7 linked regions of the Homo sapiens genome follow. The protein of the gene in region 6 purifies or fractionates together with the protein of the main gene of each other region. This does not show direct contact. Each region holds a gene or a part of one and is shown on either strand. Other genes may lie near its edges. The genes, in order: PLS3, CPNE3, HMGCS1, SUCLG1, HARS1, ANXA5 and POGLUT3.

Region 1 (3,964 bases), on a different chromosome or scaffold from region 6:
CCAGCACTTTGGGAGGCCAAGGTGGCCAGATCACCTAAGGTCAGGAGTTCGAGACCAGCCTGGCTAACATGGTGAAACCCCGTTTCCACTAAAAATACAAAAAATTAGGCAGGCATTGTGGTGCGCACCTGTAATCCAGATACTCGGGAGGCTGAAGCAGGAGAATCCCTTGAACCTGGGAGGCAGAGGTTGTAGTGAGCTGAGATCGTGCCATTGCACTCCAGCTTAGGCAACAAGAGCAAACCTCCATCTCAAAAATAAATAAATAAATAAATAAATAAATAAATAATGCAAATAGTAATTCATTGAGTGTCCACTGATATTTCTATAAAACCAGTAACTTAACTGATAACATCAGTTACTTTGAGGGATGCAGATTCGAGGAAATATTGGAGAAAGATTTGAGAAGGAGACTATAAAAAGTTCATAAACCTCTAAATTGCTTAACTGGTTAGAATAAGGTTGTATTCTTTAATTTTAAAATAAATTCAAATTTTAAAAATAAGCCTGTACCTAGAGAGAATGTATGTACTTAGAAGAATGCTTGGAAACTCGTATTATCGAAAAATTCTAGATCTGAATAGAGAGATAAAATAATCTAATATGTGTATTGGCACTATATGCACATACATAAAGTGTTTAATGAATCAGTAAATTTTGTGAATATTCTTAACAGGAGAAACTCGTGAAGAAAGAACCTTCCGTAACTGGATGAACTCTCTTGGTGTCAATCCTCACGTAAACCATCTCTATGCGTAAGCCTTCCTACTGCTATTGTAAACAGTTACGAATGTCATGAATGGATGTTAAATAATGACAGCTCTAAAGATTTTCTAGATATTAATTTGTAGCTATTATTTATATTGGAAAATGTCAAGTGGTGATTTCCATCATCATTTTCCAAATACACAAAAGCTTTAAGTATTCCTTTACATGATCGTTAACTGTAAGTGATAGAATATATAAATGTCTTTATAGTACCCTAGGGAGCAAATACTTTATATTTTGAAACAGCTGTTTGGGAGGTTGAGGTGGGGGCATTGCTTGAGCCCAGGAGTTTGAGGCTTCAGTGAGCTATGGTTGTGCCACTGTACTCCAGCCTGGGCAACAAAGTGAGATCCTATCTCTAAGAGGGAAAAAAAAAGAAAGGTAAAAAAGAAAGAAACAGAGACCAGGGAATCCTTTAAGTAGACCATCCACAACAACTCAGGGACTTTGGTTCATTGTTCTCTCAGCCTGGAACGTTCTTTGCTCGCATATAGTGGCTCGTATCCTTACTGTATTCCAGTCACTGATTCAAAGATTTCCTGACTACCACCTGCTACTCTCTAACCCCTAACCCTAGTTCCTTTTTTTCTTAATAGCACTTACATACACCCCTAAAATTGTTTGTTTATTGTCAACAAACCAATACCCCCCGTATTGTTTGTTTATCCATGTACTTGTTTATTGTCTATCTCTCTGACTCTAATGCAAGGACAGGGATTTTTGTCCTGTGGGCCCAGCCTCTAGAACAGTGCCTTGCTTACAGTAAGCTCTCAATAAATACTTATAAATGAATGGGATGGTCTTAGCTCTGTTTTCAGCACAGATTGATAGAAAATATGAGTCTTGGGTATTATTTATGGTTTTATATATCTTGTTTGACAATGTAGTGTTACTGTTTTTAAGGAAAGTCAAGTCCCAGCTTCCTGAAAACACTGATTACATTATTTTTAAATCATTAGTGACCTGCAAGATGCCCTGGTAATCTTACAGTTATATGAACGAATTAAAGTTCCTGTTGACTGGAGTAAGGTTAATAAACCTCCATACCCGAAACTGGGAGCCAACATGAAAAAGGTAGATAATTAAGTTGCTGTATATATTTGTTAGAGTATTTTTATTCTCGATTAATTTCTTTTGTTTCTAAAACTCTTGACGCTGAGCTTCTTGAGGACAAAACTGTGTCTTATTTGTTTTTGTGTGCTGATACCTAGCATTATACAAGACACACACACACGTATGCAGATTAAACAAATGGAAGTCTTTAACCATTTACTCTTGTGCCTTTGCAGCTAGAAAACTGCAACTATGCTGTTGAATTAGGGAAGCATCCTGCTAAATTCTCCCTGGTTGGCATTGGAGGGCAAGACCTGAATGATGGGAACCAAACCCTGACTTTAGCTTTAGTCTGGCAGCTGATGAGAAGGTATAGTACACAATTTTAGCTGTTTAGTCTTTACTATCATACAGGTCTGTGATTTAGTCCTTACTGTGTTTAATAAGTGGATATGTCGATAACTACACTTTTGAAATATGTTATATTTACACTCCGAAATGAGTTTAATTAATGAATATATGTTGGATGTTAAGTGGGAGATGCTTCCTTGCAAGTTAGGCAGCAGAACTATGGTTAGTCCCTTTTTTAAAAAATAGGAAGCCTGACACACAGATTTCGGCCTCGTTTAGTGTCAGTGAATTAAAAAATTGTCAGAACAAAATTATGAACATCTTCATGCTCATTTGAAAATAAAGATCTCTCTCTGTAATGCTGATGAAGATCACTATAATGCTGAAAAGCATTCATTATGACTGGGCACCAGCCAAAGCACAGCTTATTTTATGCCATTACCGCTATTGGAATAGTACAAAATGTGCCTACAGTGGGCTGTTGGACCTGCTCATTAAAGCACTGTCAATCTGCTCCTCTCTCACCACTACAAAGAGTAGATCAGTAGCAAGCCACTACTGCTTGAAATATTTTTTTCACATAGTGTGAATCTCTTTCCATGAAATCTTTAGTCCTTGAAATTTAAGGAATATAGGGGCCAGGAGTGGTGGCTCACGCCTGTAATACCAGCACTTTGGGAGGCCAAGGAGGGTGGATCACGAGGTCAGGAGATCAAGACCATCCTGGCTACACGGTGAAACCCTGTCCCTACTAAAAATATAAAAAATTAGCCGGGCGTGGTGGTGGGCACCTGTAGTCCCAGCTACTCAGGAAGCTGAGGCAGGAGAATGGTGTGAACCCGGGAGGCGGAGCTTGCAGTGAGCAGGAGATTGCGCCACTGCACTCCAGCCTGGGCGACAGAGCGAGACTCCGTCTCAAAAAAAAGAAGAAAAATTTAAGAAATATAAAAAGTGGAAGATAAAGCATCTTTCTGATGTTTGCATTTTTCCTCATAAAGTAGATGGTGACGTTTTCTTCTGCTGCCTCTCTTAGATATACCCTCAATGTCCTGGAAGATCTTGGAGATGGTCAGAAAGCCAATGACGACATCATTGTGAACTGGGTGAACAGAACGTTGAGTGAAGCTGGAAAATCAACTTCCATTCAGAGTTTTAAGGTCAGAATCCATATTTGACTATTAAATATTATGTTTGCTGGATAACATCTATCATTTGGGAAGGCAACTTTTGGCTTCTTTGTGAGTGAGAATTAGTGTTGGGCTAATGGCACAATTCTTTACGAATTCACTGGGCTTTGTTTTTGGCACTTGATATAAGTAAGCACATGTTAATTTGTATGTATCAAAATTCTCAGATTTGTTCTCCTTTCACACTAGGACAAGACGATCAGCTCCAGTTTGGCAGTTGTGGATTTAATTGATGCCATCCAGCCAGGCTGTATAAACTATGACCTTGTGAAGAGTGGCAATCTAACAGAAGATGACAAGCACAATAATGCCAAGTAAGGGAGACTGCTAATAGTATGAAAAGAACGCAGCTTTGTAGCTGGACAGATCTGAATTCTAATTCAGGTTCTGCCATTTAAGAGTGGTGTCACCTTGGGAGAAACCTCTTGGAGCCTCAGATTCCTCATCAATAAACTGGGGGCAATAATACTTACCTTAGATTTTATAAAGATTAAATTTTTAAAAATTATAAGAGCCTAGCCTTGTGCTTGGCCTACTAGGTGCTTAGTCGGTTGTTGCTTCAGTGGATTACAGAAATAATGTAGCATGTATTTTAATGCAAATCA
Region 2 (3,964 bases), on a different chromosome or scaffold from region 6:
TAGGCAGCCTGGAGGCATTAACTATAGCTTGTCTGGTTTCATCAAGGTCTGTGATCACACCATCAGTAATAATCAAAAGCACAAAATATTGCTGCCAGAAAAAGAAAACATGTCCCCTGAGCAAGTCAAGCAATGGCTAATGGCATCTCTGGCTTGATGAGTCATCCAGTCTTTCTTGTTCATTTTCCTTGCCAGTCTCTACCCTAGCTACCACCACATAAAATATTCTAAGCTTCTCTGATGACAAGGAAATTGACTCTTACAAAAACTGCAGGTTCATTAAAAGCGCAGCAGACCACAAAATAGGGTTGGCAAAATATATGGAAGCAGGACATCTAAATGTCAAAGATTAACCTTTCAGTAAGGCTAGGAATAAACAGTTTTAACTCAAGTATTAAATATGTCAAAGTATCTATCAAGGAGGCAAGTGGAAACTTCATTCTCAGAAGATCAAATAAATACAAAAATTATTAGAATTAGAATATTAGAATACAAAAATTTTAGAAGCTAAAATACACACAAAAAAATAGATATGGTTTAAGTGATGAAATCATCCCCCAGATTGTGTCACCTAAGATAAACCTTTTCAGAGAGCAGTAAAATGTTACATCAAGTAGTGACTCCATCTTTTGGGCCATTTAAGTCTAGAATAGGAATAAGATTTACAATATTAGTTAACATATGTTGAGTGTTTACTCTGACCCAGGCATTGTGTACTTTATATGAATTATCTAACCTTTTCAACAACAGTATGAGGTAGTTTCCCCTAACTTACTTCTGAATATGCTGAGGCTAAGAGAAATTTGGTATCCACGGTCCAATAGGTAATGGTTACCTCATTCAAATATCTTTAGTACAATAAGAAATCTTGCAACAGCATCTGATGTGGTAACTTTCCTTAAGCTTAATTTGTTATGTCTACTTCAAAAAGGTAGATGATAGGCATTTTTTTTTTTTTGGTAGAACCTATCTAAGAAAGTTAATTCCAAGGATAAAAGACTCATGAATGCCAAGTGTTGTTTTGCTGTTGTCTTATTTTTAACGATCACTAGTATAACAACAACAAAAGTTACTCCCAAACCAAGAATGACTGTGTTATTGTATCTTGCCCTGACTTTGTATTATGACAAACCAAAAACATAGAAAAATGGCACCAGGAGCTGCTACCAATCCACATTCTTCCCATTCCCTGGCCATAGAGCACTTACAGAAGCTGTCTGCTGTTGCGTGGCTGCAGCAGCAAACCTGGCCACGTGATTTATGATTGGAGAAAAATTAGTTGGTCCATAGAGTTTTATCTGAGGAAGACAAGACCGATACGCCTCTACAATGCCTTGGATTCCTAGAACAAACAAACAAATAAAAAACAGTACTAAAAATTCTCAAGCACAATGTGTTTATTCACAATACTGGCTAATTTGATTATATGTATCAACATATAGTGCTTTAAATAGTCAAAAGTTCTATAAGCAGTAGTTCCTCTAAGCTATGTATTACATAACTCCATAGGTATGATCCATTGCAAAAACCTATAAGCTCTGTCCTCCCCCAATAGAAGGGATTTACTTTCATCTCAGTCAAATTACTTATTAGTCTACGGTAGGACTGTTACATCTGTGCTTAATTTTTAATACATGTTGGGAATGTGGCTCTGATAGAAAACCATGAAAAAGGTTTCACATCATACAACTGATGATGAAAGGTAAGAAAGAGTTATTAATAAAATGAAAAATCATTTGCATATATGGCCAGAGGTTCTACAAAAATACCAGATGGCGATAAACCTAATATTAATTCTAGTTAATTAACTGATACAAGTGTTTATTCAATAAGTTAAAGGTTAATCATTGTATCACAGACTGCATTAGTTCCAAATATTCACTTCCAGGTTACTTATCCATTTTGCTGCAGAAGCACTGATGTGTTTGTTTAGGGGTACTACCCCTAGACCTGCTGGTGCATTTTATAATAGAAAGTTGGACAGGACCATTTGATTAGCTTTGACCAATGCATGTGACACCCATACCTAAGGAGATGTCTTAAGAACTACTGCCTGTTTTTTCCAGCTCTCTTGCTCCTTTCCTCTGCCGTAGGAGCAGCACATCCCAGATAAGGCTGTTCCTTCAGCCTGAGTCCCAATATAAGAAACATGGAGAGAACTCCAGCCTAGCTGCATGTAAAATGAGCAAGAAATAAACTGTTGTCATTAAAGCCACTGAGATTTAGAGATTGTTTATTACAACAGCACAACCCAGTGAAAGCTGACTGACATTGCTGGTCAAAGCACTGCTGATGAAACTTGTATCCCACACAAGCACCTGTTGAATCTGCCCTTAATATCACAGCATTTAGGATGCAGACAGGATAACAGAAATTCTAAAGAATTTCCAACAATACTTGCTGAGATCATCACAGATACTTGCCACAAAAAAAAAAAAAAAAACTTAATGTAAATCAAAACAGGTCTCTTGCTTTTAAAATGTCTAAGAGAACACAGATCAACAAAAAGGAGAAGCATATACAGTCATGTGTCACTTACCAATGGGGATAAATTCTGAGAAATGCATCGTTAGGTGATTTCATCATCGTATGAACATCATAGAGTATACTTACACAAACCTAGATGGTATAGCCTATTACTCCTAGGTTAAAAACCTGTACTGCATATTGCTATGCTGAATAATGTAGGCAATTATAGCAACTGTACCTTTTCTATGTCTTTACAGTAAAAATAAAATATTAAAATCTTATGGGCCTACTGTCATACATGTGGTCTGTCCTTGACTAAAATGTCATTTTTAGTGCATGACCATACTTGGCTTGAAAGCTTCAGGAAACCAACTCTCTTCTCTTAAAATGTAAGAGTTCCAATAAACTCCTCTTAGTTTCTTTGAATTTAGGAACAGGTAGTCTTATGAACAACCTTTGAGAACATAACTAATTCATAGGCAGGGGTGATTTTACATGCAGAAGGTCCATGTTACTAGTAGTCAGTCCAGTAGTAACAAAGGTATAAATAATTCATTTAGGGCTGGGCACGGTGGCTCATGCCTATAATCTCAGCACTTCGGGAGGCAGAGGCAGGTAGATCACAAGAGGTCAGCAGTTCTAGACCAGCCTGGCCAACATGGTGAAACCCTGTCTTTACTAAAAATACAAAAATTAGCCGAGCGTGGTGGCAGGCGCCTGTAATCCCAGCTACTCGGTTGTGGGCGGGGGGGGGGGGGGGGCGGGCTGTGGCAGGAGAATTGCTTGAACCCGGGAGGAGGAGGTTGCAGTGAGCCAAGATCGTGCCATTGCACTCCAGCCTGGGGGAAAAGAGCAAGACTTCGTCTCGAAAAAAAAAAAAAAAAAATTAATAATAATAATAATTTCTTCACAAATATCAAGAGCTTTCAATTCCTTAATTAAAACTGAATTATGCCAAAACCCTTTCTATGCATCAAAGTAACAAGTTATTTCTAAGGCATATTATTTCTAAGGCAACTAGATTCAATGATTAGTTAGGAAAAGGGGATTAAACTTCCTTGCCTTAAAATAAGGCTCTGAGCTTTTTGCTGTATAGTATCTCCTTTGTTTAAAACCAAACTGATGCTTTTTCCAGAGTGTAAACCACTTGGTGAACAGCCCAAGGATGGGCTTACATTACTCACAGAGTGACTGAACTTCTAAAATGAATTATCATATGATATGTCATCCATATTCATTTACAATAAATGAAAGCTAATTACAACAAATTCTAAAGATTATCCACTTTCATTATAAAAATGAAGCATATTTCTTAAAAAGAATAACATTCCCAGTTTCAAATGGCTAGGGAATAAAAGAGGTCACAACCAGTCACTGAAAGTGCCTCAAAGAACACTGAATTAGTATGGAAAAAGTGTTCTGGGGAAAAGAACAAAACCATATTGCAAACGGCCGCCACAAAAATTGTTCATGCTCTTCCACCTTATGAATATTG
Region 3 (3,964 bases), on a different chromosome or scaffold from region 6:
CCAAATGATGGGTGTCCTCTCTGAGCTTCATGTTTTCAGCGAAGACATCTGGTGCCACACCAGTTCTTGAATCAAGCCTTGATTTAAGATCACATAAACTTGCTGTTATTTTATCAAGAGCAGACCCTAAAATAGTGAATAATTCAACATTAAAAGATTTTTTTGAAAAATCATGTCCAAAAGAAGCCTAAGTAAAATGTTGCCAAATGAGGCAAAACAACTTTTCATTTTCATTAAAACTACTGGCTACTGATTAGTTAAAAGATAAGATGATACCTATTTGACAAATCTCCTATGATGTCAGACTAGAAATCTATTATTGAGTATCTGCCACTAGACAAGTTAGGAAACAGGCATAATTTGAAACTATAAATAACTTGTCTACAATTAATCCATGGTACAATTATTTTATTTTTATTATTTTTTATAGAGATGGGGTCTCACTATGTTGCTCAGGTTGGCCTTGAACATCTGGCCTCAAGCAATCCTCCCACCTCAGCCTCCTGAAGTGTTGGGATTATAGGTGTGAGCCATTGCACCTGGCCCATGGTATAATTTTAAAAAGTAATGTCAAGTTTTCATCAGTTTATCTCTACATTTTTGCTCTTTCCTGCTCAGGGAAAGCACAAAAGTGACCTTAAATATAGCCAAGACCATAAGCCTATAAAAATTAGATAACTTAGTCCTATCCTTTATCCAGATAAGGTAGAATTTTTTTTTTTTTTTTGGATAGATTTTTAGGGCAGAGAGTAAAAACCTACTGAAAGAAGTAATGAAGACTAAAATATTGTAATGATCTGTGGGACAGATTCAGGTGCTCACTTGAGAAGACTGCTAAATCAACTTCCCCAGAGTAGTTCTCAATACATTTTTTTTTTTTTTTTTTGACAGAGTCTCGCTCTGTCACCCAGGCTGGAGCACAGTGGTGTGATCTTGGCTCACCACAACCTCCCTCTCCTGGATTCAAGTGATTCTCCTACTTCAGCCTCCCAAGTAGCTAGGACTACAGGCATGCACCACCTCACCTGGCTAATTTTTGTATTTTTAGTAGAGATGGGGTTTCAGCCATGTTAGCCAGACTGGTCTCGAACTCCTGACCTCAGGTGATCTGCCCGCCTCGGCCTCCCAAACTGCTGGGATTACGGGTGTGAGCCACTGTGCCTGGACTCAGTTCTCAATACATTCTTGTTGAAAGATTCAGCACTTACCCGGTGTAGCATCTTGTGTGACTTTAAGAGAGTACAGAGTGGCAGCCAAACCAGAACCATAAGAAAACACTCCAATTCTCTTCCCTGCTAATTGCTGAGGTGAGTACCTATGTAGGGTGTAACAATAGTTCAGAAGTTTAACTGATCCAAAGCTACAGCGTGTGGGAAGCTATAAAAGTAGCAATAAAAATTTAGGCTATAAGTAAAAGTAGAATCTAACTTAAAGTTTTAAGGATCTAACTCAAAGTGTTAATATTGCAGTAGGGAATATAACTTAGTTTTAATATTGCAGCATGTGAGTTTTCATCTTGTGGGGAATGACAGAGCTTGTGAAAGTCATGCCACAAAACAAGTTACTTCATCAACCAGGTATTTATGGTTCAACTGTAGGTCAAGAATTAAAAAACCATGAAAACAGAAGCCAGGAAAGCCAGTATGAAATTAACAAATACTTCTGGAAGAACTGTAGCCTCAACCCATACATCTTTCAAGTCAATGGACAATAGCAGATTAGAGAGCCTCAAGATAAAATTTTCTGTGATCTACCACCAACATGCTTGACACTAGATTTGGTCTTAGAAATCTAACATCTCCCAAATAAGGGGAGTTAAGTAGTAGGTGAAATTTATACTTACTGTGCTAGAACAGATGCAAGGGAACCATATACTGAAGATGTGTACATATTTCCATTTTGATTTGATACAAGTAAAGATGCCTTTGTTTTCTGACTGAAGAGTTCAGAGCTAGCCTTCATAAATGCCTTCTCCACATCTCTATCAAAGTAGGTGTCTTCTAATTTAACATCCCTGAAAGATTTATTTTACAGTTTTACAGTGTTTAAAGCCTATGTTTTTATTACACTAAACAGCAGGCCTAATTAGGATTCAAATCTTTAAGTGTATATAATTGTTTTCTCATTTATTAAAAGCCAAGTAGCAGCAATCTAATTGCTATAGAAATCATAACAGTTGTATATATATGGTTCTTTTTCTCAAAAGTTTTCATAATCAAGTTAAGCCTGCTTGATTTGAATAGGTTAAAAGACGCACTGTAGCTTTATATTTATATTCACTTATATTGGCTTCAATGAATAGAATATTCAATCAACTGAATATTCATCAACTGAATAGAATACTATTTCAAGTCCATAATAATGTTTATTTAGTTAGAAAAGTCATGGTATTACAGGAGCCAAGTTTTAAAAGTCAAGTATAATTTTATCAGATAGAGAAAGGACACACAAGAGACACAGGGAGAAACAGAACGAGTTGAACACACATAGCATGCTAGGGAGCCTAAAGTGAGAAAAAGACAGGTGGAGTACAAAAGCTGACTTTAGCTGTGGCAGTGTGCAGGATGGAAAAGGGCATGGGGGCAGGGGTGCTGAGAGAGGTAAGGAGTTAAGAGGCTGCTGTAGTGAATATAGGCCCTTGTGCAGTTACTTTATCGTGACAACATGAATGGAGCTGAAAGAAATAAATCAGAAAATCTGAATAGAAATGTCTAAAGAATTTGTGCATGTTAACTACCACCTCTCTGGACTTAGATTCTTCACTGACTGAGACACACAGATTAGACTGGATGACTTCTAAGATTCTTCTGACTCTCAATTTCTCAGGTCTGTACAAATAACAGCTTAACAGATATTAAAAATGCTCTAATATAGAAGGAAAAAACTCATAATAGCTCCTCTTACCCAAAGGCTTCCAGGCCACTATAGATACTATTTTTATCTCTATTCTGGTCATTAAGGAAGTCATTCAGCAACATCCGAGCTAGAGATTTCTGAACCAGTTTACAATATGGTGAGTGAAAGATCATGAAGCCAAAATCATTCAAGGTAAAATCTTTATCATTTCCCTCTGAAAGAGAAGTCCAAGGAAACTATGAAATTCATATAAGCCATGAAATTTTAAAGTTTGACTTTAGAATAAAGCTAGGATATTTGTATATGTTTAAACAGCAACCACAAATACACTGTATAATGAAACCTCTCTATACCTTAAAGTATACATTTAAAAAGACACTCAAAGATGAAACAATATGTACTATGTCACTAATTTTCAAATTTAAGATTCATACACATTAGCAGGTTACATAATCAATTTAGTGGGTCAGGATTAGTATTTTTTTTAAATAAAAGAGTATTTTAAAAAACAAAATGCAGTAGAAAAATAGCAAACTGAATAACTTGCAGCAAGGGTAAGTAATGTCATGACATTTTTGTTTCAGTCTGGCATACACATACAATGTAACATGTACTTCTTACTGTGGGTCCTAATAAAAAAGTTAGAAAACCACTATTCTGTTAATATATACTGCAAGAATGCTTCTTATCCAGAGCGACTAAATTCACTGATATTTGTCATTGAATATGATTTTTAACCCCTTCTCATAACCTCTAAAAAGCAAAGTTGGACTACAGAAAAAGTATACTTTATGTAATAATGTGTTATGATAGCATTAACTCAAATACTGTCCTTTCAGTGCCTCAACAAATTTCCAGATTAATGATAACAGTAAAAAAACAAATACAAATTCACAGGTCAAGTGCAAAAAGATTATTTTTGGGGTAAGATCACTTTAGTAATTCATTTTCATTAGCTTTCCCTGAATCACAGCTGTAGTCCAAAACCTTGTTAAAATACCTCTCTCAAAAGATGAACAAAATTCAACTTACCTTCTTTTCTCCACTTTGATTTTCTTACAAGGGGTAAACCGACCTAAATATTTTTGCAGAGATACACCTCAGTTCC
Region 4 (3,964 bases), on a different chromosome or scaffold from region 6:
TGGCAAACTCCTACTTAACTTTTAAGATCTGACTCTAGCTTCCTCTTCCCCATAAGCCTTTTCTATCTCTCCCTCCCACCCTCCCCACAAATGCCCTCATAGGTGATCATCTCATCAGTGACCCTGTTGTGCCTTTTACACCCTTCTACTATTAAATTCAGCACACTGGCTATAACCTATTCCCCGTGTGTTCTTCTACTAAACTATGAATTCCCTGAACACAGAGGTTATATTTTCACTAACTTCGGTATGCCTGGCACCTACTGTAGTACCTATGGTATAGAATTAAAAAGAAAAGACTCCACAAATTATTTACTCATTCACTCATAAGATCTACATAGAATATGAGAATCTCATGTTTGAGTGGCATTAATTTGTATTTGATTCCACTCCCCTGTTCCCCAAAAAGTGGGAATATTGTTGCACTAGAAAGGATCAAGACTTTGTTGAGCCTAGAATGGCAAACAAATTTGCATCTGTCCCATTAACAAAGAGCCATTGGAGGCTTATTTGTTTTTGTTTTTTAAGTGGAGAGAACTACAACTAAAAGACTATGGGGAAGTGTAGTCTGAAAATAGGACACAAAAATGATGAAAGGTATGTCTAAAAACAGAAAGGCCAGTTAGAATGCTATCAGTGTAGTCTGAGCCTATGCCCAGGATTGATGACTCTTTGTCCTTAACTCCTTCAATCTGACACCTCATCCTTCCATGGTGAAATGGAGAAGTCAGACAAACCTGGGTATGAATCTCACCCCAGTTCGTTTGCTGTATACCTACCATTGTCAAGTTACTAATCTTCCTGTACCAGTTTTCTCATTCATAAAGAAAGAACAAAAACAACTTACCAAAGCATCAGGATAAAAGTTAAACACCAGAACGTTTGCAAATAATTATCATCATTGTAATGATAACAAGAAAGGCAGCAGCAGATCATGTTTATCGAGTGTTTACACCAAGTATTACACTAGGCATTTTATATAATGCAGCATCTGAACTGCTTAACTTACAATCTTGTACACATTAGGTTCTCAATAAAAATTAATTCCATAACAACTAACCAGGAATAGGAAACATGTTGCCAAATGAAACAAAATGTCTATGTTTCATTTTTCCCACTAAATACTAGGCTATTCCAGGGATTCAGAATTGGGCCCAAATACATTTTAAATTCAACTTAACACAGCACAATGCTGTATTAACCGAAACTTTTTTTTTTAAAGAAGTCAGTTTTTACTTATATTTCAAACTGTACAACTTTCTGAACACAAGGGAATCTAACATTTTACTCCAATCCTTAACAATCTACTCTTCCATTTACATGACCTGTATTGGTGCCCACTGTGCCAGGGGACTGGGCAGGGCACTGAAGTTAACAGTTCCCTGCAGTCCATAACACAGTCTAGAGTGAAAGTCAGATACTAAGCATTCCTTGCAGAAGGAACAAGCAAAGGCAAGTGAGAATGAAAACTGGCATGTCAGATGGAAAACTGATCTAAAAGGGAAGGTTTGGATGGTATGTGAAGGACTGGAATACCATGCTAAATCTGCCTTTAGCTGACATGTAATGGGAAACATTACATGGGAAACACTGTCTGATGTGAACCAAGGACAAACAGCACCAATACCCATGTTTCAGAAGGGCAGATAATTTGGGTGGCCATAAACAGAATGGCCTAAGAGTAAAGGGGGGTGGTTGGAGAAAATAAGAGAGATCAAGAAGGAAACCACTGAGATGGTCCAGATGAGATGGGATGAGGACCCAAACCAAAGTAGATGGACTAAGTACAGACAAGGCTCTGAATCCAGACAAACCTCTGATGTCTCAGAGACAGATCTTGGTAACTGAGTAGAAACAGGATAAGAGAGAAATAAAAGTTAGTTCTCAGGTTTCTGCCATAGAAATAGGCACAGAAAATAGATCCAGGGAATGATAAAGAGGAGGAAAACCAGAAAGAAACCAAGAGGATGGAGAGGATGACGAATGAATCAAGGCCACTGGTGACCTCTGTGCAAACACAATGTCAGGAGAGTAAGAAGATTCCACAGCAGCCAGTGGCTCAGTAAGAGTGCTTACTAAGTGCCGGGCACTACTTTGCTATACGTTACTAAGTCATTTAAACTTCGCAGTCCTTACAATAACTCTAGGAGGCAGGCACTACTATATCGTCATTTTTCCAATAAGGAACCTGAGGCAACGAGAGATTAAGCATTCCCAAGGTCATATAGCTTCTAAGTGACAGACAGGAGCCTGATTGCTGAGGATTCAAGAATGAATGAAAAGTAAGGAAAGAGAATGAGAGAATGAGGGTAAACCTGAGTCATATCTAATATGGGAGTTAGGGCTTAAAATCACCACAAAAGAAAATCAAGTATATTCAAAATAGCCCTTGAAAATTCCTTAAAACACAAATAAATATGCCTTGTTTTGTGTAAACCACCCTGTACATGATATTATTGGTTCCTTTAACTCTCCAGTATTATTTTATGTGGCATTTAATTCATTCACTGGTGGATTTTTTTCATACATATAGAGAGAAAGTGATCTCCACTCTCTTGCCTGGTCCCCTGAAGAAAAATTTTCACTCATTCCTCAGTATAAGAGAAATTCTGAAAATCAGTTGCTTGATTTTTTTCCCACAGTTCTCTGACACAACAATGGCCACAGCACAAATTCACTGAGTGGGGGCTGGTGGCCACCACACTGCTTCAGTCACTACCGCACCCCCATCTCTCCTTTCACCACAGGAACAGGGCTTAACTCCCTCAAGCTGAATGAAATGATGACATAACTCAACACTACTCCTTTACATTTAATTCTAAGTGAGAAGCAACAAGGAAAGCCTCCCCAGGACATAGACAGTAAAGCTTTTCTACTTGATCTCTGAAGGGAAGTGCCATTCCACAAGGAAAGTCTAAAACTGGAAGGAAGCCAGAGCCTGAAAAAAAGCACAAGGGATAGGATCTTTAGGTCAGCCTTGAAAAAGAGAAAAAACCACTTATTTCCCTCTGAGATCGGGAGAAAGAATACTGGTCACAGGTGAAAACCAAGTCTGCAGGTCAAGTGCGGGCTCTCGGGCTGATGGCCTGAATGTATCTGTTCAGCAGGAGAACGACTTACCTACCACAAAGTGTGGGGTGATGCCTGGGGAGGAGAGTTCAGAATAGAGAAGCAGAGAATCAACCCAGAAATAATACAGAATTGTCTGAGTGTCCAGTATAGAAGGCCCTGCTCAGAAAGTTTTATCTTTCATGTTTTCTCAAAAAATTCACCTTTGAAAAAATAAAAATAACTTCTGAAACAAGCCTCTGATATTAAGAGCAAAGAGCTATGTTTTTCCAAACCCAAACTTACTGAATTATGTTGCTTCAAAAATTCTGCAGCATTCTCTTCTGCATTACCACCAATTTCACCAATCAATATGATGCCTTCTGTGGCAGAATCGTTCAAAAAGATTTCGAGGCAGTCAATAAAATCTGTTCCATTAAAAGGATCACCTCCAATGCCTGAAAAAGTTGAAAAATATCAATAGCTGGAAATTTAAGGGTGAACCATGGAATTTAGGTCAATAAATGTTTTTAACTAGTTTGTCATTTTTCTTACCCTTCTCTCTTATATTTTTAAATGTATCATTGCTCTTGCATTTAATATTTAAAAAATCACAAAATGCTACATTTATTTCTGTTGGTAATATTATATAAATGCTAAATGGTGGTTGGTTCCTGATATTCTAGGAATATTCTAGGGCTGTAACGAAGACAACCCTCTTTTTGTTTTAGCTCCTTTATCAAGCCTCTTCTGTCCCACAAAATTATTCCCAGATAACTCCTTAGAAATGAACATTTTAAGAAAATGTGTATCTGTGTTGCATGCTGATGTTACACCAGAGGAAAGAATAAACATTTAACAAATTTCTTTGAGTAAAGAAACTATTTGATGAAGTATGCTGCAGATAAATCACCCA
Region 5 (3,964 bases), on a different chromosome or scaffold from region 6:
CCACCCCAGCCTCCCAAAGTGCTGGAATTACAGGCATGAGCCACCGCGCCCAGCCTCCCTTTGTCTTTACATCGTCTTCCCTCTGTCCCTATCTAAATTTTCTCTTCTTACAACAACATATTGGATCAGAGCCCAACTTGGAGACCTCATGTTAGCTTAATCATCTCTTTAAAGACCCTATCACCAAATGTAGACATGTTCAGAGGTTACTGGGAGTTAGGACTTAAACAAATGAATTGGGGAGGGTGGGGCCAGGGGGACACAGTTCAGCCCGTAACACTAGTGTGTTACTGTTTCTGATACTGCATACTGGGAAGTTTCAGGCTTTTTAATCTTTGCCAACCTGGTAAGTGAAATATGCTATTACCGATGATAGACATCACAGGGCAAGGACTGCTGTAATGCCCTTAAGACATTCCCCAGTTTTTACTTTTGACATTATTCGAATCTCAGGCATCAAAAAACATTTATGTTTATTGGTCTGATAACCTATTCCTAGTAGTTTATCATCAAGAAAAATACTTTTTTTTAAAAAAAAAAAGAGCTATATACCTAAATATTAGATATTGAAATGTTATGGGGAATTTTTTTTTTTTTGAGACAGAGTTTCACTCTCGTCACCCAGGCTGGAGTGCAATGGTGCGATCTCTGCTCACTGCACCCTCTGCCTCCCGGGTTCAAGCGATTCTCCTGCCTAAGCCTCCGAATAGCTGGGATTAGATGCCTACCAGCTCCCCCAGCTAATTTTGTATTTTTAGTAGAGACAGGGTTTCACCATGTTGGCCAGGCTGGTCACGAACTCCTGACCTCAGGTGATCCATCCGCCTTGGCCTCCCAAAGTGCTGGGATTACAGGCGTGAGCCGCTATGCCTGGCCTAAAAAAATTTTTTTTTAAATTAGAATAACCTAAACACCTAACAGTATAACATGAGGGAGGAAGTAAGTACAGAGCTTCTTCTCACTGGAATTTATGCATCTTTTAAAAACACTTCAGGCCGGGCGCTGTGGCTCGCACTTGTAATCCCAGTACTTTGGGAGGCTGAAGCGGGCAGATCACGAGGTCAAGAGATCGAGACTATCCTGGCCAACATGGTGAAACCCTGTCTCTACTAAAAATACAAAACTTAGCCGGGCATGGTGGCACCCGCCTGTAGTCGCAGCCACTCTGGAGGCTGAGGCAGGAGAATCTCTTGAACCCCGGAGTCAGAGGTTGCAGTGAGCCGAGATCACGCCACTGCACTCCAGCCTGGTGACAGAGCGAGACTCCATTTCAAAAAAAAAAAACAAACTTCATGCTGAGAAGTCTGAAGAAAAAAAAGATTTTTAAGAGGAAAATGTGTAAGAAAAATACTTCAGCTCTGTTACAAAATCAAAATAGAAAAAAACACAAAATTGGTGTTTCCTTTTAATGATAACTACATCAGACACCTAAGAATTGGGATAAAGAGCAGAGGGAAATGTAGACAAGTTGGAATCAGTCATGTTTGTTTTCAAAACTTCCTTTTAAATTGTTATGTTTATTATTATGACCACATTTATTTATGTTTTCTCCAGGAAACACTGATGGGAAAGTATGGGGAAGACTCCAAGCTTATCTATGACCTGAAGGACCAGGGCGGGGAGCTCCTGTCCCTTCGCTATGACCTCACTGTATCTTTCTAAACTTGGGCTCTTGAGACTTTGGATGGATTGGCACTCACTTGGCTCAGGTTTAAGAATGGTAGAGTAGGTAGGATCAAATATGAGGCCTTTGGCGATTAGGGGAATTATTTCTCTAAACCAGGAGTGGAACTTTGGCTAAACAGAGCATACACATCCTTAGAAATCTTCTGAATCCTGAGTGAGACCTCAGCTTGATGTCAGGGCCCAGTTCCAACTCTACAGTCATCCCCTGGCTCCAGAATACCTCTCCCCTGCCCTGTCCAGTGAACAAAATTCTTCTTAATGGACTAGCAACACATTTCCCTTGTCTCCAAGCTACACAGAGAATCATCTGCTTAGAAATCCCATATGGGGGCCTTTTTCTGGTCGCCTTTTTCTGGTCTGTGGCCAACCTGCCCAGCCCCTTGCCATGCTCAAAAAAGTCCAGTCAACACTACAAAAGGGAAAGGTGCCTTAATCTTTTTTGAGCCTTCAGCTACCTCATGTGGTAGCACAGCTGATGCTTTCTGATGTTTGTAAGTGCTATTAATCTTATGGGTGGCAGTTTTACCCACATAGGGAGGGGTTAGACCCCAGCTTCTGTTGGTGATGATAATCAACTTGCAGACAGTGATAGGAGGGGCTTTCTCCTTAACTCTTTGTCATCAGGTTCCTTTTGCTCGGTATTTGGCAATGAATAAACTGACCAACATTAAACGCTACCACATAGCAAAGGTATATCGGCGGGATAACCCAGCCATGACCCGTGGCCGATACCGGGAATTCTACCAGTGTGTGAGTGTTGGGAAACCGTGGGGCAGGATGAGTTACTTGGGGCTCTCTCAAGCCAGCAGAATCTATTGAGTACTCACGGTGTCCTGAGCAAATTGGATGACCCAGATAATGCTCTTAGGGTTTCTATGGTGGTTTTTTTGTTTGTTTTTTGTTTTTTTGAGACGGAGTCTCGCTCTGTTGCCCAAGCTGGAGTGCAGTGGTGCAGTCTTGGCTCACTGCAACCTCTGCCTCCTGGGTTCAAACGATTCTTCTGCCTCAGCCACCTGAGTAGCTGGGATTACAGGCGCCTGCCACTATGCCCGGCTAATTTTTTGTATTTTTAGTAGAGACGGGGTTTTACCATGTTGGCCAGGCTGGTCTCGAACTCCTGGTCTCATGATCCGCCTGCCTCGGCCTCCCAAAGTGCTGGGATTACAGGCGTGAGCCACCGCACCCAGCCTCTTCTATGGTGTTTTCATGCAGATTTCACAAAATCCCTGTGGTGGGGGAGGAGAATAAAGTCTCTTCATTTTACATATGAGTAAACTTGATACCCAGCCCATGAAGAGATCATAGGGATAAGAAAGGCAAAGTCAGGACTAGAACTCTTGGTCCAGTGCTCTTTATTTTAAACCACAGTGATAGGATCACAGCAGAGAATAAGGAAATTAGCTTTGATACATCAAATCATCCAGACTGATGCCAGGGCTTCTGGATGAATAGGGAAAATGGCTAAGCACTAAAGCCATATAATCACCCCATCCAGTAGGAGGAGTTAAGAAGATGATGAAGTAGAAAATGAAGGAATAGCCCAGTAGATGGAAAGGAAACCAAAACTGGTGAGAAGCCCAAAGATGCCGGGGTTTACCTCTGGGCTGATGATCAGAAAATGAAAGAGAAATTCTATGCTTGAGTGCAACCAGGCCTTCCTAGAGGACAGAGCTCCCAGAGTCCCCCCTTCAGAAAGGTGAATCCCTGAAGACCGCTGGCTAACCCTCTCCCTGCAGGATTTTGACATTGCTGGGAACTTTGATCCCATGATCCCTGATGCAGAGTGCCTGAAGATCATGTGCGAGATCCTGAGTTCACTTCAGATAGGCGACTTCCTGGTCAAGGTCAGAGCTGACAAGGCTGGGAGGGCAAAGTTGGGCCTGGCCTCTCACAAGAGAAGATCCTTGTGCAGAGGGACCAGTAGCCTAAGTGACCATGACTATTGCAGGTCATGTAAGAAAAGAGATTCCCCCCTCACTATGCATTGGTTCCTTGCAGGTAAACGATCGACGCATTCTAGATGGGATGTTTGCTATCTGTGGTGTTTCTGACAGCAAGTTCCGTACCATCTGCTCCTCAGTAGACAAGCTGGACAAGGTAACAACCCAAGTACTTGACTTCTTTTCCCAGATCCCACCCTGCCTTGGGAAATGGAAAACAAGATTGAGAGAGAGAGAGGTGCATGCCTCTATACCCACCAGAGGAAGGTTAGCCCCAGGATGTAGGCTCATGGGCAGCTACTGCTCTAAAACGGTTCCCCGAGGACAGTACACACTTG
Region 6 (3,964 bases):
CTACCTACTCAAAATGCACCTAGTCTTTTTTTCCCAGCTTTATTGAGTTATGATGGACAAATAAAAATTGTATATATTTAAGGTATACACCATGATGTTTTCATATATGTGTACGTTGTGAAATGATTACCACAATCAAGTTAATCAGCATATCCATCACTTCATATAGTCTATATTTTTGTGTGTGGTGAGGACATTTAAAATATACTGTATTCACAAATTTCAAGCATATAATAGTTATACTTTCACTATAGTCACCACGCTGTTCATGAGATCCCCAGAACTTATTCATCCTGCCTAACTAAAATCGTGTATGCTTTGACCAATATTTCACCAGTCCCTTCTCCCATTCACCCCACCCCTACACCCTAGCAAACACTGTTTTACTATCTGTTTCTATGAGTTCAATTTTTTTAGATTCAACATAAGAAGTGAGATCATGCATAGCTTATGCCTTGTGCCTAGCTTATTTCACTTTGCATTATGTCCTCCACGTTTATCCATGATGTTGAAATGACAGGATTTCCCCTCTTTAAGACTGAACAGTACTCCTGTGTGTGTGTGTCTGTGTTTGTGTGTGTGTGTGTACGTATTCTTTATCTATTCATCTGTCAATGGACACTTTGTAAACCCACCTAGTCTTGAAACTCTGCTGCATGTGTGATTTGTACCATGAAGCCTCCCTAACATCCAAAGCTATGATGACCTCTCTCTTCTGAATGCATTATTGCATTTAACATCATTGGTATTTTACTTTAGTTTGAATTTCATTATCCTTTAAATATTGCAGTCATTCTGTCATGTCACCCACTGAGGAGACTGCACACAAACTGCTTGAGGACAGGAGCTGTGTTATGCACACCTTTTGTCACTCATGACAGCCTGTTAACACACTGCCAGACACATAGCCAGTGCTCAATTACACGGCTGAGTAGGACAGACCACACAGTTATTACCCCCTTTGAGCACACCATTTGTAATCCAGTAGCACAAAGGCTCTCATCAACGTCAACATCCCCAGAAAGAGATCTTTGAATAGTACATCAAATAAAGTTCAAAGTTGAGATACATGTATCACTTCTGCCTTAGCGGTTGGGAACTTACTGCCTATAAAAAGAGAAGCAGGAAAGAGAGATTCAGCCCTTTAGAAAGGTAATTATACAGTTGCTCTAAACAATTTTTTGCTGTTTTGACTTGCTGGGTTAACAAAGCCATTTCTAAGATTAACAAACTAATGGCAAGATACAGCCCCTAGCAAAAGACACTAGGCTTGGAGTCTGTTGACTGAGCTGAGAAACTGGATAGTCTGACCCTCCTCAGTCAGGCAGGAGAAAGAGTTGGCTACAAGAAATCTGGTAAGAAAAGGACTCTCTACCTCTACTTTTTACTTCATTTTCTTGATTCTATTCATGAGACATATTTTAGGCCGAAATGCAGATTTCTGTTCATATAAAAGACACACTAAAAAGAAAAATCAAAATGCAGAATATTTTATTCAAGCACTGCCATTAGCTAAGACAACATACATTTACTCAAATGTACTTTATCAACTCTGATGTGGGAAAGGGTTTAGGTTTCTCTTCCAAAGTTCCAAAAGTACTTTTTATATAACTCCTAAATTTTGCTAGCATAAAGCTAAATATTTTTAAAGGAGGAAAAACCATTTTTACCTTAATGTTAACATAAAGACAACCTGTATATCCCTACACTAATTGCAAATCCTATGCAAAAGTAAACTCCATCTTCAGCAGTAGCTTCTTATAAAATATGAAAATAGTAGAGGATAACAAGGCAGTCTTTTCCTTACTGAAGGAGAAAAATAGCTTGAATTGCAGGTCATTCATTCATTCATTCATTCATCCATCATTTACTGCGTGCCTCCCATACCTACAAAGGACTGCATTCAAATCACAGAAATGAAGGAAGTGATAGTGGAGGTGAAGTCAAAATATAACTCACAAACATTTACCTTCTTCATAAACTTGTTTGATGGCTCTCAGTTCTTCAGGTGTCCTTGAAGCAATAATTTCTGTCAGTACTTTTTCATTTGTTCCAGCTCCCTGTTTGGAGATTTTAATAGAGAAAACATGTCAATAAGATTAAAAAGAAAGTTATTAAAAGAAAGTTATAGATGTTACCCAAATTGCATAGTTATATAAATATTATCCAGTATAACATGGATTTCTTTGTATATGAGTTCTATTAGTTATAGAAATAACAAGTTTTAAATGATTTTCTCTCCAAAGACCATTTTATTCTTTTTGCCTAATGGAAAACAATGTTTATCATGTGTATGTGTGTATATATGTGTACGTATACATAACCAGTTACATAAATTTGTAACTTTTAATTTGATCAGTTAATTCTAGCTTAAAAGTAAAACATTTTCATGAAACATGAAGTAATTTTTTAAAAACCGAAAGAGTAAAAATGAAAACTTCACGTAAATGTACATGGAAGAGCACTGATACTTAATAAGCACCTCAAAAGATAAACCCCTGACCCCCAAGTTAAGTGCTGTGCAGTCACAGGAAAATTCTACATCAAAGGTAACAATAAATATAGCAATACTTAATTATTAGGAATTAGAACAGTATAAAGGAATTGGGACTTGCTTTCTGGATTTTTGAAAAATCATTTTAGTTGGCTTTCCTTTTTCTGCTTTTAAAAATCACATCTATATGATTAAACTAAGAGATGCAACGATATAGCTGGACTTAATTTTTTTTAAAAGATAGTATATTGAAGCCTTATTTTCTTTATATTTCTATTTTTTGCCAAAAATCAAGCACTGAAAAACCTAGAGTTCATTCTCTGGCAGAATTTCAACTACTGCTGACATTTCAGAAGTACTTAGCAAAAAAAGTGCTTTTCTCAATAACCTCAGATTTTTGTTTATTCCAAAAGAATCACCATAGGAAAATGAAGAGACTGAGCACAAACCAGCTCCTATCAGGATGACCCTTCTCCTCTCTCCACTCCATCAGTAAGAATCCCTGAGAAACATTATTTCCTTGTTAAATCTCAATGTGCCCATTCAAAATCTAACAGCTAACAACTGAACTACTTCCTGTCCCATGAGCCTAAACAAATGTGTCAATGCCTTCATATTTATACAACATTCCAAACACCAGTCAAGGGAATACATATTTAATTTTTGCTGCAACTGAAATTATAGCAAGTTTACCAGCTACTTCATTTTAGTGTTTAGAGGGGCAGGAAAGAAGGAAAGAGTATGAGAAAATATTTATCTTGAAAATTCTCTCTGAAGCTTTACCTTTTAACCTAAAATGATGAGCAATATTATGGTTCCCTAATCAGGCAATTTTCTACTGAAAAAGATAAAATAGCTCATCTGTAATATTTTTTAAACATCCTCAAAATCAGAAGACAGGCATGAAAATAAAATACAAAAAGCTATAAAAATATGAAAATTTTAAACAGCCCAGTATTATTGAGTTTAAATCTACAAAAAGATGAAATGACACACGTGTAATTTTCTCCCTCCTTTACTGCTTATTGCCTCCCAGTTTTGTCTGCCAAGCAACTCTCACTGAAATAATCAGATAAAATTTTTTAAATATAACAAATAAGAGGAAGTAATTACCAAAACAAAATAATACTATCTATGCAAGAATGTTCCTTTCACTCATCCTTTTTACCTTCAAGGCATGTTTCAGTTCATAAGCATCATAAAGCCGAGAGGGTTTCATCAGAGCCACAATTAATTTTTCAAATTTTCCAGTTAGTTCTGATTTCAGGTCATCCAGAAGATCCTAACCCACAGAAAATACAAATTTGTTAACCAGCAGAAATTGTAATAAGATTCTTCTTAAATATGAATGACAGTCCTTTGCTCTAATGAATTCTTTATGTTGCTGTCTCCAAGTAGAAGGCCCATGAGCTAAACAAAACCCTATAACCTTGAATAACATACTTTTAACCTGTGACCAAAATCTTAAAC
Region 7 (4,504 bases), on a different chromosome or scaffold from region 6:
TCCATAACCACTGCTTAGCATTACTAAAATAGGTCAAGAGAAGTGTGAAAATGTGGGAAAGATTTTGCCCTGGTAAAACTTGGTCACAGCAAGAATGCTGAGTAGCACGGTTAAAGCCGTGAGGCGGACAAAGGCTTGTCCAGTGCCTGGCTCTGATGTTTTGGGCATTAAGTTCCCCCAAGAGGGTGCAGAAATCCTGTGTCCATTCTGGGGTGTGAGTTCCTTCTGGATCATTCAGCCAGAGGAGAATCTTTATTGGCTTTAAATAAATTCAGATCTATTAACAATCCATTAACAAATTTGTATCCATTAACAAATTGGATAAAATGATCAAAAAAGAGAGGCAGATAGTAACCTTGACAATCTCTTCCTGGATCCAGCGTTCATCTTCTGAGGAGTGGTGGAGGTGGCTGAGACCAACCACGCACCACCACCCCTTCTCCCACTTCGATTACAGAGGCTTTGAGGTAAAGCTCGCACAAGGGCTCAAGGCAAGGCCTGGTCTTCTGCCACCCCAGTGCCCAGCTCCTCACTCTGGGCTTGGCCCAAACTCCGTGGATGTTCTGTAAACACCTGCTGGAAGAAGAGGAGTGCGGGAGGAAGCGGGGAAAGGGATGTGTGGGGTGGGGGGATCACGGTTCTGTGAGGGAGGCTGCTAAGCAGAAAAGCAACAAAACCGGCCACAAGAGAACGGTGCTGCTGTGAACAGAGGGCTGTGAGGGAGGGCGGGGGGCGTGACCTTGGCGCTCATCTTGTAAACTCGGAGACATTCCTTGGGAAAAGATATTTCCCTAAACTACATCGATCTTGGGGCCGGACCCTTTCATCGTCCCACAACAATCACCACCGGGTCTACGTCCTTTAAAAACACCTGAGCGGCGGACCCGGTGGCTCATGCCTGTAATCCCGGCACTTTGGGAAGCCGAGGCGGGCGGATTGCTTGAAACCAGGAGTTCAAGACCACCTTGGGCAACATAGGGAGACCCCGTCTCTACAAATAGTAATAGTAATAATAATAATAATAATAATAATAATAATAATAATAATAAATTAAATTAGCCAGCGTGGTGTCGTGTGCCTACAGTCAGTCCCAGCTACTCGGGAGGCTGAGGCGGGAGGATCTCCTGAGCCCACGAGTTCCAGGCTGCAGTGAGCTGTGGTCGCGCCATTGCACTCCAGCCTAGGCGACAGAGCCAGCCCCCTTGTCTGTATAAAAACAGAGAAAGAAAAGAGAAGAAAGAAGGAAAGGAAGGAAGAAAAAGAAAGGGAAAGACCACTGGAAGTGGAGGCCAGGCGTGCCTGAAGCCTTGGCAATCAACAGCCAGCGCACACTCGCAGCCTCGGTCTCTGGGCGGGCCTCTCCACCCCTTTCCTCCACGGGGCCTATGGGGCTGCGGGGAGGAAGGGGCGCACCCATCGTCGACCCCTACAGGGCGCGCAGTGGGTGATTGCGGCACTGGCTCGCGTTCCCGCCCGAGGGAGACGAGGCGGGACAGCGGGCGGGAAAGGGAGCCTGCGCCGCAATCTTTCCCGCCCGAAAGACCCGCCCCGCGGTGGGCCCCAGTCCCCGCCCGGTCCGCGGCGCTGCCGGCCCCTCCTCGCCGCCGCGGAGCTGGACCGCAGTTGTGCCCCGCCGACCATGCGCCGCCTCCCGCGGGCCCTGCTGCTGCAGCTGCGCCTCGCCCTGCTGGTGGCCGCGGGGGCCCCGGAGGTGCTGGTCAGCGCGCCGCGGAGCCTGGTGTGGGGGCCCGGGCTGCAGGCGGCCGTCGTCCTGCCGGTCCGCTATTTCTACCTGCAGGCGGTCAACTCGGAGGGCCAGAACCTCACTCGCTCTCCCGCAGGTAGTGTCCAGCCGCCGGCCTCCCTCGTCCCGCGGCCGGGTCCCCGCGCGTCCCCGCCGCCCGGGAGTCCGCCCGCGGCCTGCGTGGCGTCCCTCCCCGGCGTGTGTCGCCCCTTTTTGGGTCTGGTCAGCTCCTCTTCCCTCCTCCCGCCCATACTCAAAGCGGGCAAAAATCACCACGAAAGTTTGTGGAATGAATGAATGAATGAACTTGAAGGGCCCTTCCGCATTTAATGTGCAGGGACTGATGTTGCGAATGGACGGCGCCCGGGCGTTACAAGGAGTGTGCCGTGAGTCACACGTTGCCTTCCATCTCGGACTTAGTTGTCTGAACTGTGAGGGATTGCAGGGAGCGCTTTCCAGTGGTGAGTCATCAAGCCGACGGATCGCGTCGGATTACATGGCTTAGGCCTGGTGGGTTTGGAGCAACGAAATCCTACGCAGAGGAAATGTCAGAGCCGTAGGAAGGAGGAGGGGTTTACGTGTTAGTTTTTTGTTTCCTTTTTAGTTCTGAGTTTTTGAAAGCAGATTACAGGAACTAGGGAAACTCAGTAGAAATCATTCGGTTTTCCCTCCACGGAGGGTGAGATGGATCTCGTCCTGAATCCCTTTCTGCCCGGTCCTCCTCCCACGTTGTCCTTCACGTCTTAACCTTTGCAACTTCTTAAAACTTGTCCTGCTGGTTTCACGCTGTTGTCAGTCAGGATTTGCTAATGTATAATTTGGGGCTCTGGCCAACTAGCACCTTGTTGTATCAGCGAAGAGACAATTAGAATAAACCAGTGCCTCTGCCCCTGCTAGTCCAGCTGGGAACATAGCTGCCAGAAGTGTGTCCCAACTTGGGAAAGGGGTAAGGGGGTCTTGACAGCTGGGCAAAGCAGAGAATTTAGGAACCAAACATAATTCACTTTTAGATTTAATGATTTTTAAAATTTCATTCATTCAAGAAATACTTCTTTGATGTCTACTTCTGTGTTTGGTAATTCTGCTGGGAATCTAAGGATGAAAAGACAATGCCTGACCATCAAGGAACTTACAGTCTGTTGGTCAAAGACATGCAAATAACTGATCACTGTACAAGATAATTGAAGGTATGTACAGAGTGCAGTGGCAACATTGAAGCACTGCCAGAGACTGGAGAAATCCAGGAAGATTTCAGGAGCAGAGACTTGAAGGATGAGAAGGTTTGCTGGGCAGGCATATAGAAGGACGCCATGGCATGTGCAGAAGCACAGAGGCGTAGGAGACCGTGGTGTTCGGGAAAATAAGTACTGTAATTTAATGATACTGAGCGGAAAAGCCTGGTTGATTGTAGCCTCTGGTCTTCAAGCGCCTTGAATGCCAAGCAAATGACTTTATAACTAGATAAAAGAGAGCCACTGGAGAAATTTGAGCTGAGGCAAGAATCTGCCTCTCCCTTAACTACCTCAGTGGCTTGTTTTCTACATTTGATTCAGAACACCACTCCTGAAGTTGTCTTTGGGCATTGCTTTGATAACGTGTCTACCAGTTAGACCCTAAATACTCAGACAACTGGTTTCATATGCATGATATGCATTTAGGTAAAATAATTCCGACTCTATTGACAGAAACGCATGTGTGTATATCAGGGTTTCACAAACTTTTTCTTTAAAGGGCCAGATAGTAAATAATTTAGGCTTTGTAGGTGATATCATCTCTCACATTTATTCAGCTGTGCTTTGTAGCCATGGACATATAACAAACCCGTTTATGTTACAATAAAACTTTTTATGGCCACTGAAATTTCAATTTCATATAGTTTTCCATAAGTCACAGAATATTATTATTTTGATTTTTCTCCAACCCCCCTCCTCCTTTTTTTTTTTTAAGAGACAAGGTCTTTGTCACCCAGGATGCAGTGCAGTGGTACAGTCATAGCTACTGCAGCCTCAAATTCCTGGCCTCAAGGGATCCTCTTGCCTCAGTCTCCCCAAATGCTGGGATTACAGGCATAATCCACCATGCCCATCCCCATTTTAAAAATATAAGAATCATTGTTAGCTTACAGGATTTACAAAAACAGGCACTGAGCTGGATTAGCTAGTTTGTCAATCTCTAATGTATGTTAAAGACTCTCAGTTAAAATCCAAATGATACATGACTTAAAGTTGTGTATATGTTTTATATGTACATATATTATATATACATAAATATATTTAAACAAACGAAAAAGTTTACAGACAGTTTCTATTAAATATCTTAACAGAAGGAAAGTTACATTTATGATTCTGCATGGTTTACCCCTGTGATCTGTGACTTTTCTTTTTTTACCTTTTTTAGTCTTAGAAAGACTTCTCAGCCTGGGCAACATAGCAAGATTCCATCTCTACTTAAAATAAAAATTTTAAAAATTACCTACTTGGGAGGCTGAGGCAGAAGGATCAGTTGAGCCCAGGAGCTCAAGGTTGCAGTGCATTATGATTGTGCCACTGCACTCCAGCCCGGGCAACATAGCAAGACCCTTTCTCTAAATAAATAAATAAAATGGAACTTTTTGGACAACCTTACTTTCATTCCTTTGGATTCCCTTTGTTTCCTTTCAGGCCTCTTGATTTCTGGCTTCCAGTTAAAAAGGTGCCGTATAGTTCTGAAAACTCACCCAACTAGTTTCTTACATTTCTGCCACCAACATTCACTTCCAAG

What was found.
Region 1: the proteins of ANXA5 (region 6) and PLS3 purify together in Homo sapiens (affinity purification with mass spectrometry, with the first as the bait; one large-scale study listed by BioGRID). This does not show direct contact.
Region 2: the proteins of ANXA5 (region 6) and CPNE3 purify together in Homo sapiens (affinity purification with mass spectrometry, with the first as the bait; one large-scale study listed by BioGRID). This does not show direct contact.
Region 3: the proteins of ANXA5 (region 6) and HMGCS1 fractionate together in Homo sapiens (co-fractionation; one large-scale study listed by BioGRID). This does not show direct contact.
Region 4: the proteins of ANXA5 (region 6) and SUCLG1 fractionate together in Homo sapiens (co-fractionation; one large-scale study listed by BioGRID). This does not show direct contact.
Region 5: the proteins of ANXA5 (region 6) and HARS1 fractionate together in Homo sapiens (co-fractionation; one large-scale study listed by BioGRID). This does not show direct contact.
Region 7: the proteins of ANXA5 (region 6) and POGLUT3 fractionate together in Homo sapiens (co-fractionation; one large-scale study listed by BioGRID). This does not show direct contact.

Annotation. Positions count from the first base shown.
Region 1 is NC_000023.11:115,644,345-115,648,308, forward strand, and holds part of PLS3 (plastin-3), read left to right. Parts: intron 1-676; coding exon 677-755; intron 756-1,727; coding exon 1,728-1,842; intron 1,843-2,057; coding exon 2,058-2,191; intron 2,192-3,205; coding exon 3,206-3,329; intron 3,330-3,548; coding exon 3,549-3,673; intron 3,674-3,964. UniProt on the Homo sapiens protein: Actin-bundling protein.
Region 2 is NC_000008.11:86,552,229-86,556,192, reverse strand, and holds part of CPNE3 (copine-3), read right to left. Parts: intron 1,343-3,964; coding exon 1,209-1,342; intron 92-1,208; coding exon 1-91. UniProt on the Homo sapiens protein: Calcium-dependent phospholipid-binding protein that plays a role in ERBB2-mediated tumor cell migration in response to growth factor heregulin stimulation.
Region 3 is NC_000005.10:43,292,848-43,296,811, forward strand, and holds part of HMGCS1 (hydroxymethylglutaryl-CoA synthase, cytoplasmic), read right to left. Parts: intron 3,071-3,964; coding exon 2,905-3,070; intron 2,015-2,904; coding exon 1,844-2,014; intron 1,316-1,843; coding exon 1,209-1,315; intron 127-1,208; coding exon 1-126. UniProt on the Homo sapiens protein: Catalyzes the condensation of acetyl-CoA with acetoacetyl-CoA to form HMG-CoA, which is converted by HMG-CoA reductase (HMGCR) into mevalonate, a precursor for cholesterol synthesis.
Region 4 is NC_000002.12:84,428,154-84,432,117, forward strand, and holds part of SUCLG1 (succinate--CoA ligase [ADP/GDP-forming] subunit alpha, mitochondrial precursor), read right to left. Parts: intron 3,507-3,964; coding exon 3,355-3,506; intron 1-3,354. UniProt on the Homo sapiens protein: Succinyl-CoA synthetase functions in the citric acid cycle (TCA), coupling the hydrolysis of succinyl-CoA to the synthesis of either ATP or GTP and thus represents the only step of substrate-level phosphorylation in the TCA.
Region 5 is NC_000005.10:140,677,474-140,681,437, reverse strand, and holds part of HARS1 (histidine--tRNA ligase, cytoplasmic), read left to right. Parts: intron 1-1,554; coding exon 1,555-1,650; intron 1,651-2,310; coding exon 2,311-2,436; intron 2,437-3,422; coding exon 3,423-3,530; intron 3,531-3,684; coding exon 3,685-3,783; intron 3,784-3,964. UniProt on the Homo sapiens protein: Catalyzes the ATP-dependent ligation of histidine to the 3'-end of its cognate tRNA, via the formation of an aminoacyl-adenylate intermediate (His-AMP). Plays a role in axon guidance.
Region 6 is NC_000004.12:121,679,702-121,683,665, forward strand, and holds part of ANXA5 (annexin A5), read right to left. Parts: intron 3,777-3,964; coding exon 3,663-3,776; intron 2,061-3,662; coding exon 1,970-2,060; intron 1,108-1,969; coding exon of another isoform or gene 1,055-1,107; exon of another isoform or gene 1-1,054. UniProt on the Homo sapiens protein: This protein is an anticoagulant protein that acts as an indirect inhibitor of the thromboplastin-specific complex, which is involved in the blood coagulation cascade.
Region 7 is NC_000011.10:108,495,502-108,500,005, reverse strand, and holds the start of POGLUT3 (protein O-glucosyltransferase 3 isoform 1 precursor), read left to right. Parts: upstream 1-1,621; 5' UTR 1,622-1,639; coding exon 1,640-1,841; exon of another isoform or gene 1,842-2,045; coding exon of another isoform or gene 2,046-2,205; intron 2,206-2,787; exon of another isoform or gene 2,788-4,504. UniProt on the Homo sapiens protein: Protein glucosyltransferase that catalyzes the transfer of glucose from UDP-glucose to a serine residue within the consensus sequence peptide C-X-N-T-X-G-S-F-X-C. Can also catalyze the transfer of xylose from UDP-xylose but less efficiently.